Homo sapiens: one gene and its partners. The protein of the gene in region 3 interacts with the protein of the main gene of each other region in a pairwise test. Each region holds a gene or a part of one and is shown on either strand. Other genes may lie near its edges. The genes, in order: NECAP2, SH3GLB2, NMI and SINHCAF.

Region 1 (5,119 bases), on a different chromosome or scaffold from region 3:
AGCCTCTGAACTGAGAAGGAGCATCAGTCATTTGCTGCCAGAGGTGGTGTTTCTGTCCTAGCTATTAGAGTGCATCAGGAGGGACCTGTGTGCTCATCCCAGGCTGTGTCTTGAATAAGGAAGATTTGGGAGAGTTCTGGCAGGAGGGCGTTGAGGTGGGCGCTGGGAGTCCTGGGCAGCTTGTGCTGATGGTGTTGTCCTGGCTCCTGTGTCTTCGTTCTGAGCTGCTCTGCCTCTGGCTTCCCTCCCGTCAGCTCCTGTTCATAGGAACAGGTTGGGCTGGGCTGGGCTGGGCTGGGTTGCCTAAAGTTGGCCTTTACCTGGCTGCAAGGGTGGAGAGGGGAGATGAGGTCAGAGTCATGATTGCGGGGACCCAAGGACCAAGTGGATTGGTTTTTGTTTTTGCTAGGAATACTGTGTTGAGATGGATTTGTTTTTTCAAGAAGCTTTGTAACTCTAAAATAATGCTTTTCCTCTTTACTTACTCTTTCTCCTCTTTTCTGCTTCGTGCTGGTGATGATTTGGGATCCTTGAAGTTGGCCAGCTGGCCCTTAAGAGAGAAATGCAAGTCCAATCCAGTGGACTGGTTGGGATGTGATTCTTTCTCTCGCTTGGAGGAAACTAACATTTAATGAGCATCAGCTGAGGGCCAGGTAGTGGTTTTTTTTTGTTTTGTTTTGTTTTTTGTTTTGTTTTGTTGTTTTTTTTTTTTAGGCATTTCTCATGTGAATTAAACATCCTCTCCCTTTCCTCCATGAGATGAGGAAATGGAGGCTTAGGGAGGGTTGGGGACTTGCCCAGGGTCACAGAGCTAGAAATAACTGGCACAGCTGTGCTCACACTGAGGTCTTTGAGGTCTTTTGACTTCAGGGCTGGACTTACGATTTTATTAAGCTGCTGCTTTCCTTACAAGTAGGGAACACATTATCTTCATCTGTGTAACTTGTGCTGCTTTCTGGCTCATGCTTGGTGCTCAGTTTTTTTTTTAAAGCATTTTCTTGAAGTATAATGTGCATGTAAAAAAGTGTACAAATCATAAATGCAGAACTCTGTGAAATTTAAAAAATCTAATCTATAGGCTGGGAGTGGTGGCTCACGCCTGTAATCCCAGCACTTTGGGAGGCTGAGGTGGGCGGATCACCTGAGGTCGGGAGTCCGAGACCAGCCTGACCAACATGGACAAACCCTGTCTCTACTAAAAATACAAAATTAGCCGGGCATGGTGGTCCATGGCTGTAATCCCAGCTACTCCGGGGGCTGAGGCAGGAGAATTGGCTTGAACCTGGGAGGTGGAGGTTGCAGTGAGCTGAGATCGAGCCATTCATTGCACTCCAGCCTGGACAACAAGAGCGAAACTCTGGCTCAAAAAACAAAACAAAACAAAACACCCAATTTATAAACTTGCACCTTGCTCAAGATGCAAAAGATTGTCAGCACTCTGGAAACACCTCTCCTGGCCCCTCCCAGTAACTGCCCTGAGTAACCCCATCCTGACTTCACATACCCTAGATTTTGTTTGTTCTTAACTTTCATGAATTGAATCATACACCTAATCTTGATTTGGAATGATTTCTTTCTTTTACTCAATGTAATTTTTGTGAGAGTCATCCATGGTGTTGCGTGTAGTTTGTTCATTCTCATTGTTGTGGCATGTACCATTGTGAGAATTCACCCGATTTATTTATGTTTTACTGATGATGGACATTTGGGTAGTTTCCAGTTTGGGGCGATTACAAATAATGCTGCTGTAGATGTTTGAGTTCATGTTTTTGGTGCATATATGTATGATTTCTGTTGGTTTATATCTAGGAGTGGAACTGCGGAGTCATAAGTTTAAGTTCCTATGTTGAGCTTTATAATCCTTTCAAATAATTTTTCAAAGTAGTTTTACCAGTTTACACTTAAGCCAGCAGCGCGTGAATGGTTACTTCATATCGTAGTCAATACTTGATAATCTACATTTTAGCCATTCTGGTGAGCGTGTAATGGTATATCATTATAGCTTTGATCTGCATTTCCCTGATGAATGAAGTGGGGGTGCTGGGTTTTAAAATGGACCTTATTTGTGAGAGATTCAGAATGATGATGCACTAAGTATAGCTCATAGCAATGGAGGTGCTAGGTAGGACCATCTTTTGGTTACACAGATGTTGGGGGTCTGGGGTCACCTTGGCCCTCCTTGTGGGGTTTTCTGGTAGCATTGGGACTCCAGCAGAACGGGCTGATTTGCATTCCTCTTCCCTCTTTAGAACATGAAGAAGAAGGAAGGAGCAGCTGGGAATCCCCGAGTCCGGCCTGCCAGCACAGGAGGGCTGAGCCTGCTTCCCCCTCCCCCAGGGGGGAAAACCTCCACCCTGATCCCTCCCCCTGGGGAGCAGTTGGCTGTGGGGGGATCCCTCGTCCAGCCAGCAGTTGCTCCCAGTTCAGGTTAGTGCTCAGTGGGTGACTGCTGCATCAGTACCTGCCGGCTCCTCTTCTCCCTGGCAGCCAGGCCCCATGGTTTCCCCCCCGTTACACACATGGATTGGTCATGTAGTACCTGTCCGTGTCAAAGAAGGCGGGCACCCAAAGCTCATTCTGCACACGCTGGGTAAGGGGCTCCTCCTACTTGGCCTTTAGGGCGTCTGCCCTCCCCTGAGAGGCCAGGGCTGCGACTTGTTAGTTACTGTGAAATCATCAACATGTCGGTTCCTGGTTCCCAGTGTCTGCTCAGTGGGTATTGAGTGAGTGGGTAATGGAGACACAGTCTCTGCTCACGTGTAGTGAGAGAGATGAGTCACAGCACAGAGACCAAATGTGTAGGGCCTAGACCCACCATCAGCTGCTGTGATCTGGAGAGGTTTCATGAAAGAGGTGACATTGATCTGGACCTTGAAGGAAGGAGATAGAGTGGGAGTGGTTGGCATTCCAGGCAGAGAGAAGAACACGAATGAGGCCCAGACTTTTAGACACCTGGTGTATTTAGGGAGATGGGTACAGCATAAGGTGTGCCAAGGTGAGTGGTGGGAAATGAGATTTCGTTTGGAGTGAGCACCTCGGGTGTGGGAATCTGAGAGCATTTGCCCTGGCAGTTTGTGCTGAGGAGCCCTTAGGAGACCCTGGGATTCCGGAAGCGAGTGTCTAGTGTCAGCTTCTGACCACGCTGGGGTGCCAGCCCTTTTCCTCTACCTCCCCGCGCGCCCCCCCCGCCCGCCGCCCCGCCCAGCCCAGCTTGATGCTCCTGGCCTTCCCCAGGCTGGGCGATTGTCACCAGCGTGCCTTCTGCACACAGCTCTCCCCAGCTTGCAGGCAGGAAGCCTTCCTGCTTTACTGATTCCTAAGCCTCCCCAACATTGGCTGCCCTATCTGGAGGTCAAGCTTCAGACTTCAGTCCTGTGGGGAGAGTGGCAGGAGGGGCAGTCAGAGAGCCCCGGCCCGGTACCAGGAACTGTTCTTTAAGTGCTATTTCTCAGAGTGGGGTCATAGGACCACTTGCTTTGGCATCGCTGGGGGATGGGGGCAAGAATCTGCATTCTTGTGTCTTTTTTTTTTTTTTGAAATGGAGTTTTTTTGCTCTTGTTGCCTAGGCTGCAGTGTAATGGTGTGATCTCGGCTCACTGCAACCTCTGCCTCCTGGGTTCAAGTGATTCTCCTGCCTCAGCCTCCTGAGTAGCTGGGATTACAGGCATGTGCCTCCACACCCAGCTAATTTTGTAATTTTAGTAGAGACAGGGTTTCTCCATGTTGGTCAGGCTGGTCTTGAACTCCCAACCTCAGGTGATCCGCCCGCCTCAGCCTCCCAAAGTGCTAGGACTACAGGCGTGAGCTACTGCACCCGGCCCTTATGTTTGTTCTTGTTTGTGTGTTGACTAAAGTCTGAGAGCTACTACCTTAGGCCTTCCTAAGCAACCAAGGTTGCTGATGGATATTTATTTATTTAAGATGGAGTCTTGCTCTGTCACCCAGGCTGGAGAGCAGTGGCATGTTCTCGGCTCACCGCAACCTCCACCTCCTGGGTTCAAGTGATTCTTCTGCTTCAGCCTCCTGAGTAGCTGAGATTACAGGCACGCACCACCACGCCCAGCTAAGTTTTGTATTTTTAGTAGAGACAGGGTTTCACTGTGTTGGCCAGGATGGTCTCGATCTCCTGACCTCGTGATCTGCCCGCCTCAGCCTCCCAAAGTGCTGGGATTACAGGCATGAGCCACCGTGCCTGGCCTTGCTGATGCATTTTTAACAGCATTTTAATTTTAATATGGTGCACTTGCTGTGTGCCAGGTAGAGTTCTAGGCACTGGTACGTATAGCATCCAGTTTCAGCTCTCAAGGGCTTGTTTTCTGGTGTCTGAGACAGGCAGTTAGCATGTCAACAAACAAAATGGTGTCAGATAATAAGTCATGAATATCAACATTTATGAAGCACTTACTATATGAACAATATGGTTGGGTTCAAATTTCAGCTTACTAGCTTTGTGATATTTATTTATTTATTTTTATTTTTTATTTTTGAGATGGAGTTTTTTGCTCTTGTTGCCCAGGCTGGAGTGTGATGGCGCAATCTCGGCTTACCACAACCTCTGCTTCCTGGGTTCAAGCGACTCTCCTGCCTCAGCCTCCCAAGTAGCTGGGATTACAGGCATGCGCCACCTCACGTGGCTAATTTTGTATTTTTAGTGGAGACGGGGTTTCTCCATGTTGGTCAGGCTGGTCTTGAACTCCTGACCTCAGGTGATCCTCCCGCCTTGACCTCCCAAAGTGCTGGGATTACAGGCATGAGCCACCGCACCTCGCCTACTTATTTATTTTTAAGAAGGAGTCTCACTCTGTTGCCCAGGCTGGAGTGCAGTGGCATGATCTCAGCTTACTGCAACCTCCGCTTCCTGGGTTCAAGCAATTCTCCTGCCTCAGCCTCCCAAGTAGCTGGCATTACAGGCATGCACCACCATACCTGGCTAATTTTTGTAATTTTAGTAGAGACAGAGGTTTCACCACGTTGGCCAGGCTGGTCTCGAACTCCTGACCTCAGGTGATCCACCTGCTTCAGCCACCCAAAGTGCTGGGATTACAGGCTGAGCCACTGTGCCCAGCCCAGTTTTGTGATCTTTAGAAAATCACTTCTCCATGCCTCATTTTTCTCATCT
Region 2 (5,119 bases), on a different chromosome or scaffold from region 3:
TAGTCCCAGCTACTTGGGAGGCTGAGGCAGGAGAATGGCATGAACACGAGAGGCGGAGGTTGCAGTGAGCCGAGATCGTGCCACTGCACTCCAGCCTGGGCGACAGAGCGAGATTCCGTCTCAAACAAAAAAAAAAAAAAAAAAAATTAGCTGGGTGTGATTATAGGTGCGTGATGGTGCGTGCCTGTAATCTCAGCTACTCAGAAGGCTGAGAGGCTGAGGTGGAGGATCCCTTGAACCTGGGAAGTGGAGCTTGCAGTGAGCCCAGATGGCACCATTGCACTCCAGCCTGGGCGACAGAGCGAGACTCCATCTCAAAATAATAATAATACTAACATAGCACGACATGTTCATACATTCTCTGATCGCAGTGGAATTAAGTTAAAAGCAACAATAGAAGAAAACCCAGAAAATCCACAAATATCTGAAAATGAAACAACACACTACTGACAGGAATAAAAAAATCATACAGCTACTTTGGAAAACAGTTTGGCAACTTCTTAAAAAGTTAAATTAAATTGGCTGGGCGCAGTGGCTCACGCCTGTAATCCCAGCACTTTGGGAGGCCAAGGCGGGCGGATCACAAGGTCAGGAGTTCAAGACCAGCCTGGCCAACATGGTGAGACCCCGTCTCTACTAAAAACACAAAAAATTAGCTGGGCATGGTGGCGGGTGCCTGTAATCCCAGCGACTTGGAAGGCTGAGGCAAGAGAATTGCTTGAACCCAGGAGGCGGAGGTTGCAGTGAGCCAAGATTGCGCCACTGCACTCCAGCCTAGGTGACAGAGAGAGACTCCGTCTCAAAAAAAAAAAAAAGAGTTAAGTTAAATTTACCTGAGGCCAGGCACAGTGGCTATGCCTGTAATCCCAGCACTTTGGGAGGCCGAGGCGGGTGGATCACGAGGTCAGGAGTTCAAGACCAGCCTGGCCAAGATGGTGAAACCTCATCTCTACTAAAAATACAAAAAATTAGCCGAGCGTGGTGGCAGGCGCCTGTAGTCCAGCTACTCGGGAGGCTGAGGCAGGAGAATGGCATGAACCCGGGAGGAGGAGCTTGCAGTGAGTCGAGATTGTGCCACTGCACTCCAGCCTGGGTGACAGAGTGAGACTCCATCTCAAAAAAAAAAAAAAAATTATGTTAGGTAAAAGCAGCTAAATGCAAGAAACAACATGTCATATGATTCCATTTATATAAAATGTTCAGAAAAAATGAACTTATAGGGACCGAAAACACGTTAGTGGTTGGCTGGCTGGAGGTGAAAATGGGGCTTGACAATAGACATGAAGGACTTTTGGGGTGTGATGGAAATGTTCTTTAAATTAGACTGTGGGCCGGGCACGGTGGCACACTCCTGTAATCCCAGCACTTTGGGAGGCCAAGGTGGGAGGTCACTTCAGCTTAGGAGTTTGAGATCAGCCTGGGCAACATAGCGAGATCCCCATCTCTACAGAAAAATATAAAAATTAGAAGGGCATGGTGGTGGACACCTGTAATCCCAGCTAATCAGGAGGCTGAGGTGGAAGGATGCCTTCAGCCCAAAAGGCAGAGGTTGCAGTGAGCTGAGATTGCACCACTGCAATCCAGCCTGGGGGACAGAGCCAGACCCTGTCTCAAAAAAGGTAACAGAAAATAAAAAATAAATAAGTTTGGCTGGGCGCAGTTGCTCACGCCTGTTATCCCAGCACTTTGGGAGGCTGAGGCGGGTGGATCACCGGAGGTCAGGAGATCGAGACCTGCCTGGATAACATGGTGAAACCCGGTCTCTGCTAAAAATACAAAAATTAGCTGGGAGTGGTGGTGGGCGTGTGCAATCCTAGCTCCTTGGGTAGCTGAGGGAGGACCCGGGATGCTTGAACCCAGGAGGCAGAGGTTGCAGTGAGCTGAGATTGCGCCACCGCACTCCAGCCTGGGTGACAGAGTGAGACTCTGCCTCAAAAAAAAAAAAAAAAAAAAAGTTAGATTGTGGAGATGTTTGTACAACTCTGTAAATTTACTAAAAATCATTGAATTATACACTTAAACACATAATATATAGCTTATACTTGGATAAAATTTTAAAATGAAAAAAAAAAGATGGATATGGTTCTATAAATGCTTCAGTGAAAAGATACCTGTAATATGATGTCAAGTTAAAAAGTCAGGTTCCAGCCGGGTGCGGTGGCTCATGCCCGTAATCCCAGCACTTTGGGAGGCCATGGCGGGCAGATCACTTGAGGTCAGGAGTTGGAAACCAGCCTGGCCAACATGGTAAAACACCGTCTCTACTAAAAATACAAAAAAGTTAGCCAGGTGTGCTGGTGGGCACATGGAATCCCAGCTACTTGGGAGGCTGAGGCAGGAGAATTGCTTGAACCCAGGAGGCGGAGGTTGCAGTGAGCTGAGATTGCGCCACTGCACTCCAGCCCGGACAACAGAGCAAAACTCCATCTCCAAAAAAAAAAAAAAAAAAAAAAAAAAGTCAGGTTCCCAGATAGCACACAATATGATTCCATTAAAAAATACACACAAATAGGCCAGGTGCGGTGGCTCACACCTGTAATCCCAGCACTTTGGGAGGCTGAGGCAGGCGGATCACTTGAGGTCAGGAGTTTGAGAACAGCCTGGTCAACATGGTGAAACCCTGCCTCTACTAAAAACACAAAAATTAGCTGGGTGTGGTGGCGGGCTCCTGTAGTCCCAGCTACTCGGGAGGCTGAGGCAGGAGAATCACTTGAACCTGGGAGGCAGGGGCGTTGCAGTGAGCTGAGATCGCACCACCGCACTCCAGCCTGGGTGATGGAGTGAAACTGTGTCTCAAAAAAAAAAAAATAGGCCGGGCGCGGTGGCTCACGCCTGTAATCCCAGCAGTTTTCGAGGCATAGGCGGGCAGATCACGAGGTCAGGAGATCGAGACCATCCTGGCTAACATGGTGAAACCTCGTCTCTACTAAAAAATACAAAAAAAATTAGCCAGGCGTGGTCACGGGCGCCTGTAGTCCCAGCTACTTGGGAGGCTGAGGCAGGAGAACGGCGGGAACCCAGGAGGTGGAGCTTGCAGTGAGCCGAGATCACGCCACTGCACTCTAGCCTGGGCGACAGAGCGAGACTCCATCTCAAAAAAAAACAAAAACAAAACACACACACACACACAAACCAAAACTGGTTAAGAGAAGATTCCATTTTTTACTCTTTTTTTCTGCGTAGAGTTTTTACATTTAGAATGAATTCAGGTATTATTTGTATAATTATTTTTTTAAGTAAAAAAAAGGAAGGGAGGGAGGGAGAATCAGAGCTAAAGACCATGACCCCTAGTCCCTGGCTGTGAGGCCTGCTCACCATAGGGGGTGGTCGGCCCCAGCTCACTGGCCGCGTCTGCCATGTACTGAGCCAGCAGCTCCCCGTTGGTGACCCTTGAGGGGACCTTCCTGTCCAGCTTCTCATACAGGAACTCCTCCACTCGGGCACCTGTGGGGAGACAGCAGCCAAAGCCACAGGGCTCCTTAGTTCAAGCCCAAAAATGAAACAGAAACAGACCCAGACCCGGCCCTGCCCACAGGTGCACCTGGCCTGCTGACTTCCAGAATACGCTCTTGCTCATGCCCAACCCTGAGACTGTTGTGATTGACCCAGCACTATACAGAGGAGGAAGCCAGGGCCCGTCCACTTCTCCCTTATTAATATGATTACAGACCATAATACATGCTTGCACAATTCTCTGCTCCTGGCACCCAAAAGTTATCTGGCCCCTCAATGAGCCACAGAGCAGATTTACAGGCAGACACACAGCACGACCCGGAGCCACCCTCCTTTCCCCGGAAGTCCTGCAGGTCGCTTCTGCTTGACCTTGGGGGCCTGCCTGGGTGTGCTCCGGGCAGTCCCTTCATCTCTGGGCCTTGCTGACCTCTTGAAAGTGACCAGGTTGGGACGGACACGGTGGCTCCTGCCTATAATCCCAGCACTTTGGGAGGCCAAGGCGGGTGGATCATTTGAGGTCAGGAGTTCAAGACCAGCCTGGCCAACATGGTGAAACCCCTTCTCTACTAAAAATACAAAAATTAGCTGGGCGTGGTGGCATGTGCCTGTAGTCCCAGCTATTCAGGAGGCTGAGGCAGGAGAATCGCTTGAACCCAGGAGGCAAGGGTTGCAGTGAGCCAAGATTGCACCATTGCACTCCAGAATGGGTGACAGAGCAAGACTCCACCTCAAAAAAAAAAAAAAAAAAACCAACAGAGTGACCAACCAGGTGTGTGTTTTGCCTGCCTCTTCTCCCACGTGTGTTTTAGCTTCCAGGCATTTTAACTCTTCTGTGCAAAACTCAGTGTTTCCACTGCCCTGGAGTGTCTGGCAGCCCAACACAGAGTCCCCCATTTTCTTTTAACTGTCCCTCTTCAACAGCCTTGAGCCCAAGAGTCTAGCTGAAACCCCGGCTGCAGCCCCGCCCCACCTATGCCACAACAGGGCCAGGCCTCCTACTGTATCCCTGCCCCACGACTACATCCCTCCCCGGGCCCACGAACACGCACTCACTGGGGTTGGGCTGCAGCAGCACCTCTGTCTGCCTCAAGATCTTCTCTGTCCAGTTCTTGGTGCTGTCTGCCCGGGCCAGAAGGTTTTCAAAGTGGGCATCAAGCTCAGTCTTCTCAGCCTGGCCAAATTTCTCCTCCGTGAACTACGCAGAGGGGAAGGCCAAGGGGTGGGGAGGGGGAGAGCTCAGAAGGAGGTGGGGGAGTGGTGGGGAAAGGGAGGACTGCCCCTCCCCACCAGCAGGAACCCAGGCAGGCCCCAGGGTCAAGGAACCAGCCCTGAGTGTGATACTGTGTGACCTGGCAGGGCCTCACTGTTTTCCCCTTTGTGAAATGAGGTGGCTGGGCCAGAGTGTGGGAATCACAGCTTCTTTTGGAAATCCAATGAAAGCTACACTCTCTCCCCACAAAAATGCACCTTCATATACAATCTGGCACACAGCTTAGTGCGGTGAGGAACCCTGGGGAGGCCAGCCCTAGGGTCCTTTGAGTCTGACTCTGAAGGAGAGGACTTGGTAGAAAGTACTCGGGACAAACAGGGCAGGGAGTAGGGTCTGGGGTTATCAGGGGGCTCCATGGGCAGCTGGGAGCTGCTAGGGAGAGGGTGCCAGAGGAGG
Region 3 (4,318 bases):
AGAAGTCAAGCAACATATCCAAGGCCACATAGCTCATAAGTAGCAGAGCTAGGACTGAAGCTGGTCTATTTGACTCAGGACCTGTACTCTTTTTTTTTTTTTTAACTGTGATAAAATATATATAACATAAAATTTACCATTTTAACAATTTTTAAATGTACAATTCAAGGGTACTAAGTACATTCACAATGTTGTACAACCATCACCACTATCCATCTCTAGAACTTTTTAATCACCCCAAACTGAAACTCTGTACCCATTTAACAATAATTCTCCATTACCTCTTCTTCCAGCCCCTGGTAACCATCATTCTACTTTCTGTCTCTATGAATTTGCCTATTCTAGGTACCTCATTCAAGTGGAATTATACAATATTTGTCCTTTTCCTGTCTGTCTTATTTTGGTTAGCATAATGTTATCAGGGTCCATCCATGTTGTGGTATGTATCAGAATTTCATCCTTTTTAAAGGCTGAATAATATTCTCTGTGTGTGTGTGTATTTTATATATCCATTTTGTTGATCTGTTCATCTGTTGGTGGATGCTTGGGTTGCTTCCACCTTTTGCCTATTGTGAAAAATACTGCTCTGAGCATTAACGAGCAAGTATCTGTCCGAGTCCCTGCTTTCAGTTGTTTCGGGTATATACCCAGAAGTTGAATTGCTGGATCATATCATGTTCTATTTTAATATTTTGGGGAACTGTCATACTGTTTTCTACAGTGGCTGTACCATTTTACATTTCTATCAGCATTGCCTCAGGGTTTCAATTTCTCCATATTCTCGCCAATGAGGGCCTACACTCTTAATCATTGTACCATATTGCTGATCCAAGGTAGATGAGTGAGAAGAGTCATAAAAAACATGGTTGTATATTCCCAAGAACTGTTTTTGTTAAATGTTACAGTCTTGACACACATCCTTTCACCACTCTAGGAGAAAAAAATACTGCTAAAAAATAGACTATTCTTTGTGTTGTAGAAAACTGATGAATTTTTATTTCCTTTCAGTTTTTCTAGATGACATTCAATCCCCTCCCTGCTTTGGTTAACATCATTACTTCAGTTTATTGAATATATTGAAAAAAATGTATATAGTATTCTAATCATAGTTTTCACTTACAGCTTTTGAGAAACTGGGAAACAGTCCAGTCTTGTTAGATGAGTGGGTTACTTTCTGCAAAAGACTATGGTATTTTTTATAGCTCAAAGTAGATCTGTCTGAGGACATTGCAACCCTTTGTGCATTGATTGACTGCAGTGAATAATTCAAGATGGAATGAAGGCTTTAAACCTCATTATTGTTTGGTCTTGTAGTTTTCAAAATTATGTACTGTGAAGTCTTCAAAGTGGGCTTTAGAATTTCTTAAAAATTAATCTTTTAACTCAATATTTACTGTAATAGTGTTCTCTTTGAAGGAAGTTTTAACTTTGGTTAAAAATGCTTATGATATAAAAAAGACAAGTATTGTTTTTGTTTTGCTTTTAGTGGCTGACAAGATTTTGAAAAAGAAAGAATACCCTCTTTATATAAATCAAACCTGCCATAGAGTTACTGTTTCTCCATACACAGAAATACACTTGAAAAAGTATCAGGTAAAGTCATCTCTGTTCTCTCATTTTCAGAACTCACTGCCCAAACCCACCCCACAAAAAATAAAGTTGTTGTGAGTCTGTTACTTATGCATCTTATCAATGAGGGATAGCAAAATGGTTTCTTTACTTCATTTTTGCTTGGTGCAAAATGAGTTTGTCTTTTGAAGGAGCATTTTAATGCAAAACTGTACTTTATTATACAATTTTTAAAACTGAAATTACTCAGATAATGGCACAATTTTTATTTTTGTACATGGAGACATAGTTGCATTTCTCTCATATGTCTACTGTCAGTGAGCATGAGAAAGAATTCCTGCCTACTTTCTCTGAACTCATTATCTTTACCCCAGACCTGCTCCCTTTTCCTCTTCCTTCTCAGGTATCCAATGGTACCACCATCTACCTACTCCACCAACTTAAAAGCTAGAACTCATACTTAACTCTTCAGTTTGCTTCACCTCCAACATTCATTTGGTCACTAAATCTTGCCAGCTCCACTTCTGACTACCTCTTTACCTGGTCTTTCTGTTCCCAGAGCATCCCTCCTTTCCTCTGTGTTCCATAATGCCACCAGAGTTCTCTTTCTAAAACTCAGATCTGACTTGGATATTCTCTTGCTTGGAAAATCTTCCTAAGATTTCTTGTCTCTTCTAAGATAAAATAAAAAATATTAAGCAGAGATTATGAATGTAAAGTTTTGTAATTCAAAGCTCTTAGAAATCTTTCTATTTATCATTTTTTCCTTCTTAGATATTTTCAGGAACATCTAAGAGGACAGTGCTTCTGACAGGAATGGAAGGCATTCAAATGGATGAAGAAATTGTGGAGGATTTAATTAACATTCACTTTCAACGGGCAAAGAATGGAGGTGGAGAAGTAGATGTGGTCAAGTGTTCTCTAGGTCAACCTCACATAGCATACTTTGAAGAATAGACTTAACAGAATCATGAAAACTATAGCTTTTTAACCCGGATTACTGTAAATGTTTGACAAAAATGAATATGCTTTTCCTTAAAAAATGAAAACTTTAATTTTTACCATCCATTTATGTTTAGATACAAAACTTATTTCCATGTTTCTGAATCTTCTTTGTTTCAAATGGTGCTGCATGTTTTCAACTACAATAAGTGCACTGTAATAAAAAGTTTTGTTTATAGATTATGTGTATTGGTGCCATGTCTGCTGAAATCAACCTTAAGTGATTCAGATGTCCCCTGCCAGTGCTGGCTCATCCTGTTATGGTCTTGTGGGCCAATTCAGTTGTGGCCCCATGCCCACCAATATGCAGACTTGACTCTTAACATTTTCCAAAACAAAGGCAGTTACATTCAGCAGTTGGTGATTCCTGTAAACTCAACTGAAGATTCGAAGGACTTCAAGAGCAACCATTTACCACTGTGCATAGCATTTCACTCCACAACTCTAAAGGTTCTCAGAGCTGAGTGTGATCTTTTTCTTGAATTTCTGTTCACCCAAGTGCCAAGTGTCCCTTGATTCCTTCCAAGCCATCCCCTCTCCAAATAGAGCTCGTAAAGGACTAGCTTTTTCTTTCTTTTGCACTTACAATGGAAACAATTGGTATAAGAGTTTGAAAACCTTGGCATGGAGAGAGAGGTAAATACAAAGTTAGTGACTCATCACTTATCATGCTCGATGCTGGGGAATGACTGGAGGTAAAAACACAGTACCTGCCCTCCAAGGGTTTAAGTTTAGTTGGAAAGAGACCCAGTTTACTAGCATCTCACTGTTTTTAACTTGCAGAAACTTTAATGATAAAATTAAAGATTCCTATTCAGAGAAGGTAAAAGTCTTTTTGGTAAAGAACCTTTAGGCCGGTTGCGGTGGCTCACGCCACCAGCACTTTGGGAGGCTGAGGTGGGCGGATCACTTGAGGTCAGGAGTTCGAAACCAGCCTGGCCAACATGGTGAAACCCTATCTCTACTAAAAATACAAAAATTAGCCGGGCATGGTGGTGGGCGCCTGTAATCCCAGCTACTTGGGAGGCTGAGGCAGAATTGCTTGAACCTGGGAGGCGGAGGTTGCAGTGAGCTGAGATCGTGCCATTGCACTCCAGCCTGGGTGTTGCAGTGAGACTCTGTCTCAAAAAAAAAAAAAAAAAAAGAAAAATAGAAAAAAAACCTTTGGACAACTTCTATTCTGACATGGTAGGTTTCATGAAGAACTGGCAGCAGAATTAAATTCATATTAAAATGCTGGCAGAATGAAAGGCTTTTAGAAAAGGTTCTAAACCTATTGAATGCTGCCTGGCATCTAAAACAAACAAAAGGAAAAGCTCGAGTTTTGCTTCTGATATTTTATTTTTAGTTTTTAAAGTTACATTACTCTCAGGAGTTCTCATTTTCACCTTTCTTTAAAGAATGAGAGATGGTGCCTAAAAACTACAGTTTATGATAAATCTTCATATTTACCATTTAAACAAATCTCTCGTGTCTATTATTCTTTTTAAAATAGAATGACTATTTAAAGCTCTCAAAAATATTAAGAAGAAAACTTTAAAGTAGCTTTTTAATTTCCATTTTGCCAGTCTCACTGGCACAGAAGGTATTGTTGATAGTCTGTGGCAGATTGCCTATCAGGAAGAATTTTATGTTAATATTTATTTAGGACAAAGTTGAAATAGTCACTTTTGTATTTTGGGGGGTCCTCTTCAGGCAGTAAAATTGATAATTCAATTCTAAATTTTCCTATGTGTTTTTTTATAAA
Region 4 (5,119 bases), on a different chromosome or scaffold from region 3:
TCAGGGACCTTAAGAAAACATATTGTAGATAGACAGATAGATGATTGATGATAGTGTCAGAAGAAAAGAGAAAAGTGAGCCAAGATGGCTGCAGTTTGGACATATGGGTAATAAAACCATGGCCTATTAACTAAGGCTGACCCTTTGTGCATTTGTAACTGGAGTTTGTTAAATATTTTACTAACAGGTACTGGTTGTAAACTTGTGTATCAGATATAGAACAAAGGCAGGATGGAATCAATCATCCTTCCGCCAGACCCTGAGATGCCTACACAATTATTAATCCTTCTCTCCTACCCGCTCAGCCACATACTTACTTTACCTTATGTGTAACATCACTGAATACCAGTCAAATCGACAAGAGTGTAATTGTTGCTTCACTGTACTGCAGGTATCCCCCTGTTTAAAAAAATGTATGAATACCGTGCCTCGTGTAATCTGCTTTGAAACACAGGTTATAACCTGTTGGAACCTGTGCTTCCTGGGCGCACATCCTCAAGCTCGGCCTGATAAACTTTGTTTGATTGAGATTCCCATCTTGGTCTCTCAATTTGGGTTGACACAGCTAGTATGAGACTGGCATCCGAGATGATGAGTTTACAAAGATGATAAAGACAAGTGAATTCCTAACTCAGTTATTTTTATTTTTAAATATCTCAAAAACAGGCTTACTGAGATCTTTCACGTACCATAAAATTCACTCATTTATATACCATAAGATTCACTCTTGTAATGTGTACAATTCAGTGGCTTTTAGTATACTCAGAATTTTGCAACCATACCACTATTTAATTTTAGAAGACGAATGACAGTTCATAATCAGTATTTTAAGTTTTTCTTGATTTTTGGCTTTATCTCACAGCTTAATTTTCCTCTTCTTTCCCCAAACACATGGTTAAGGATGAGATTGTATGGGGTCTGTTCTCAGCTGTAACTATTAATCAATTAGAAAGCAGATAGTATTACCTTTCTTCCTTTAAAACATAGTGCTGAGTGATATGATGCCTATGAGAATAGAGGCAAAATTCACAGATAGTTTCATAGCTGATGGTGTCATTTGAACAAATAAGATAGATTGTACTGGAGGAATCATTTAATATTGCACAAATTTGGTACTAGGAAAGCAGTATTCTAAAGAACCACCAGATTGCTTGAAAAAACAAATCTCCAGTTTAAAATCAAGTTATGCCACGCCCACCCAGTACTTTGTTAAATATATAAAGTAACTTGGTTTCAGAGACCATTTTATGTCCTTGGTTTTGCTCTAGGGATTAAGTAGTGTTTTTTTTTTGTTGTTTTTTTAAACATTTCATGGGTTTGTAGATTTTTGGAAATAATTTCAGTTAATCTCAGGGCTTCCCAAACCTTGAAATGGTTAAACACCAACCACTGCTTAACTTGGTTGTTGTAAACAAAGCCCGAAATGAAACCCCTGTGTATTTGCTGCAGATTCCCAGGTGCCTCTTAAGTGTGAGGATAAGCTCAGAAAAGGCTTAATAGGTTTATTAAGTTGTCATCCATTAAAAGGTTCACATGCTCCTTGTGTGTTGCATAAGGACAGGTGTCTGCCACCTCATTGCATTTCTCACTGAGCATTGCCTAGGAGAGGGTAAGCCCTAGGATTTAGATCCCTCTCAGATGTTCAGGCAGAATAATTTTGTCAGGACAAAAGTAAGGTCACGGAACTATATGAAAATGGATTATGAATCCTAAGACATCAGCCTATTCTCCCCTATGTCTAAGAAGAATATTCCTCAGCTTATGACTGGAATGTCTTGCTAGGGGTGCTGGGTAAGTTTTGTGGAGGTCCCCACCAGCAGAAAAAAATCATTGAAGAGGAACACTTAATTCACAATGGCTGCTGATTAAAAAGAAAGCCTCAATATTCACCTATAACCCTAACATCCTTAACAGCTTAGCAGTGTGGTAACTGGCACAAACTATGGCGTCTTGGTCAAATCCAACCTCAGTGAAGGTAGTTCACATCCTAGAGATGAGCTGAATGCTGATAGCTTTGAGGACTTGTTTATTTGGGGGAAGGGAAAGAGATGGTGAGGGTAGAGATAGGAATCTGTCTGTCGTAATAGGATTTGGTCTGTGTATTAATGGAATGAACTGGCCTTTTTTGCTCTGCTTCTTTTGTCCTTGCTGAGAAGGGAGGCTGAAGTTTCCAAGAGTTATGGATGAAGTTGGAGAGTATTAGAGGAACTGTTCTCTGACCTTCTTGATGGTAATGCAAGCTGTTGGGCGAGTTTGGAGAAGAGCGCAGGGTGGTGTGAGGACGAGGGCCGTATTAACATTTTGCCTTAAAACAGGAATACACAAATTAAAGCAATAACTGCTACTCTGCTTTCTTGTTTCTGCAATCTTCTGTCATTTGACATTGTTTTTTCCAAAGCAACATGCGACCATTTTCTTCAGGATTTTCTTTTCAGTTATCATATGGGTTTGTTGTTGGATTGAGAAAAAAAAATCTGCCTCATTTGAGCAGGCCTCTCTAGATCTTTTCTTATGACTGTGTAGAGGGTACTTCCTCATTTTTCTTCCTCTCAAAGACATCAAATTCCCAAGCATTTAACTAAAATTATTATCAACTAAAAATGTTTTTTTTAAAACAGTTCTTAGAGGTAACTGTTTAGACTTAATTATTGAAATGCATGAAGGCCTTCTGCCTTGCCCCCATCCCACTCTTTTGCCTGCCTCTCTCACCAACAAAAACATGGCAGAGGAACAGTTTATTAACAATAGCCTGTTTGAAAGGGAAGCTTCAGTTTTTAGCTAATTATTTGCTAATAAAAGTTTTAAAAAAATTTTCTTTTAAAAGTTGTAAAACCTCTGTCTATATTTCAAAACCCCTCAATACCAAAAAAATACACATAAAAAGCCTGGATATTTGGTTCTGAATCATTTTCATTAATACTTGCTATATTATACTAACCAGAATTGGAATGGAATGGGATCAGACGAGATAATCCAAAGACAAATACAGCCATATGTCACACAAGGACGTTTCGGTCAACCACAGACTGCATATATGATGGTGGTCCCAAAAGATTATGATACCATATTTTTTTGTACCTTTTCTATATTTAGATGCACAGATTCTTACCATTGTATTACAGTTGCCCACGGCATTCAGTACCGTCACACGCTGTATAAGTTTGTTGCCTTGGAACAGTAGGCTATCCCATATAGCCTAGGGGTGTTGTAGGCTATTGCCATCTTGGTTTATGTGAGGACACTGATGTCTGCACAAGGATGCCCAATGATGCATTTCTCAGAATGTGTCCCCATTGTTAAGCAACACATGACTGTACTGAAGCTTTAGGTTTACTCATCTAAGTTTATTTCTAAAACAACTTTAAAAAGATAGTGTTCTGTGGTAATAACTCCTAAAACTATGGACACGAAAGTGATATTAATAATTTTCTTGGCCGGGCACGGTGGCTCACGCCTGTAATCCCAGCACTTTGGGAGGCCGAGACGGGTGGATCACAAGGTCAGGAGATCGAGACCATCCTGGCTAACATGCTGAAACCCTGTCTCTACTAAAAATACAAAAAGTTAGCCGGGTGTGGTGGCGGGCACCTGTAGTCCCAGCTACTAGGGAGGCTGAGGCAGGAGAATCACTTGAACCTGGGAGGCAGAGCTTGCAGTGAGCCTAGATCGCGCCACCGCACTCCAGCCTGGGTGAAAGAGTGAGACTCTGTCTCCAAAAAAAAAAAAATTTTTTTCTTTTATTGTTGCTTTATGTGATAATTTTGTGATAATTTATAGTTAGACCCTCATACATACACACATCCTCTGACTTGTCCATTGGAGTTTAGTTTCTATATTCATTGCCTTTTCATCACCTCTCTTAGTCCGGTTGTTTTGGTGAGCTGGCCCTTGATTTGGATATTCCAAATTACTTTTCCTAAGGTACAGATTTACTGCCAGCTACATATTTGCATCCAGCCCCAGAGCTGTTTTCATTCCTTCCTTGACGTTGAGATTTTTTTTTTTTTTAACAGGAGGACTGCAATTTATTTCACTCTACGTCTCTGGGACATTTGCCTCCCACTGTTACTACTCTCAGGCACAAAGCCTTGTAGAAGAGGTCCACAAACCTCTAACAACTAAGGGGCAGATCAGCGGTCAGACAACATGAGCTCGTTCTTTTTTTGTCTTAATGATAATAAGGAATTATTATTATTAAATTCTAACCTTGGATTTTTGTGAATTTTACATCTTCCCTTCAGCAGTTTCAATTCAGGGGCAAACTTGACTGCTTAGAACTTCCCATTTATCACAGAAGAAATCCCCTCTGAATTCCCATTAGGCAAAGTAGTATGGGCTGATGCATAGTGAGCTAGTTGTGTGCTTAGTATCAAATAGTATTCATGGTAAATGCTCAAAACTTCCCCAGAGGGGAATCACGTTAATGCAAATGTGCAAAATAAAAAGGTGTGTCTTAAATTTAAGGATGCATCCTTAATTGTGTACAGCTTCATTATTTTACAGGATTGTTTGTGGCATTTCTTACTTCAAAACCTGATTTTAAAAAATGCTTCTCTTCCCCATTTTTAGATTGCATGTTTGTTAGGCGAGTTAGGAGGTAGTAGAGTCCTCCTTAAATAACTAGGCTTTTCTTTGTGTTTTATACGCTTGCCTTGATAGTGCCAAGAATGGAGGTCGATCCAGGAGGTCTTCCCTTGAGCTGCCTGCCTGTCTTGGTCATATAACACCAAGTTGCTTGGGGGTGGGGTGGAGCAGAGAGAACTCTTTAATGGTTCCTTGTTACAGCCCTCAACAAAGATATGTCAATTCCCTTGGCTTTACAGACTATTGCCCAGAAGAAAAGATGTTTGGTTTTCACAAGCCAAAGATGTACCGAAGTATAGAGGGCTGCTGTATTTGCAGAGCTAAGTCCTCCAGTTCTCGATTCACTGACAGTAAACGCTATGAAAAGGACTTCCAGAGCTGTTTTGGGTAAGATCACCTGATGTTTGTACTATTCTTAGAGTGAAAAAATACCACAGCATACAGAAATATTTGTAAGCAAGGTGATTGGAACAATGTGCTAATAATAAAAATCACTTATTCTAATTTAGGCTGTGTAAGTCTCCTGCTTTTTAAA

What was found.
Region 1: the proteins of NMI (region 3) and NECAP2 interact in a two-hybrid assay, tested with the Homo sapiens proteins (one large-scale study listed by BioGRID and IntAct).
Region 2: the proteins of NMI (region 3) and SH3GLB2 interact in a two-hybrid assay, tested with the Homo sapiens proteins (one large-scale study listed by BioGRID).
Region 4: the proteins of NMI (region 3) and SINHCAF interact in a two-hybrid assay, tested with the Homo sapiens proteins (one large-scale study listed by BioGRID and IntAct).

The regions. Positions count from the first base shown.
Region 1 is NC_000001.11:16,449,589-16,454,707, forward strand, and holds part of NECAP2 (adaptin ear-binding coat-associated protein 2), read left to right. Parts: intron 1-536; coding exon of another isoform or gene 537-632; exon of another isoform or gene 633-653; intron 654-2,249; coding exon 2,250-2,427; intron 2,428-5,119. UniProt on the Homo sapiens protein: Involved in endocytosis.
Region 2 is NC_000009.12:129,017,776-129,022,894, forward strand, and holds part of SH3GLB2 (endophilin-B2), read right to left. Parts: intron 4,649-5,119; coding exon 4,507-4,648; intron 3,445-4,506; coding exon 3,316-3,444; intron 1-3,315.
Region 3 is NC_000002.12:151,268,901-151,273,218, reverse strand, and holds the end of NMI (N-myc-interactor), read left to right. Parts: intron 1-1,486; coding exon 1,487-1,593; intron 1,594-2,343; coding exon 2,344-2,526; 3' UTR 2,527-2,749; downstream 2,750-4,318. UniProt on the Homo sapiens protein: Acts as a signaling pathway regulator involved in innate immune system response.
Region 4 is NC_000012.12:31,297,929-31,303,047, reverse strand, and holds part of SINHCAF (SIN3-HDAC complex-associated factor), read left to right. Parts: intron 1-4,823; 5' UTR 4,824-4,843; coding exon 4,844-4,971; intron 4,972-5,119. UniProt on the Homo sapiens protein: Subunit of the Sin3 deacetylase complex (Sin3/HDAC), this subunit is important for the repression of genes encoding components of the TGF-beta signaling pathway.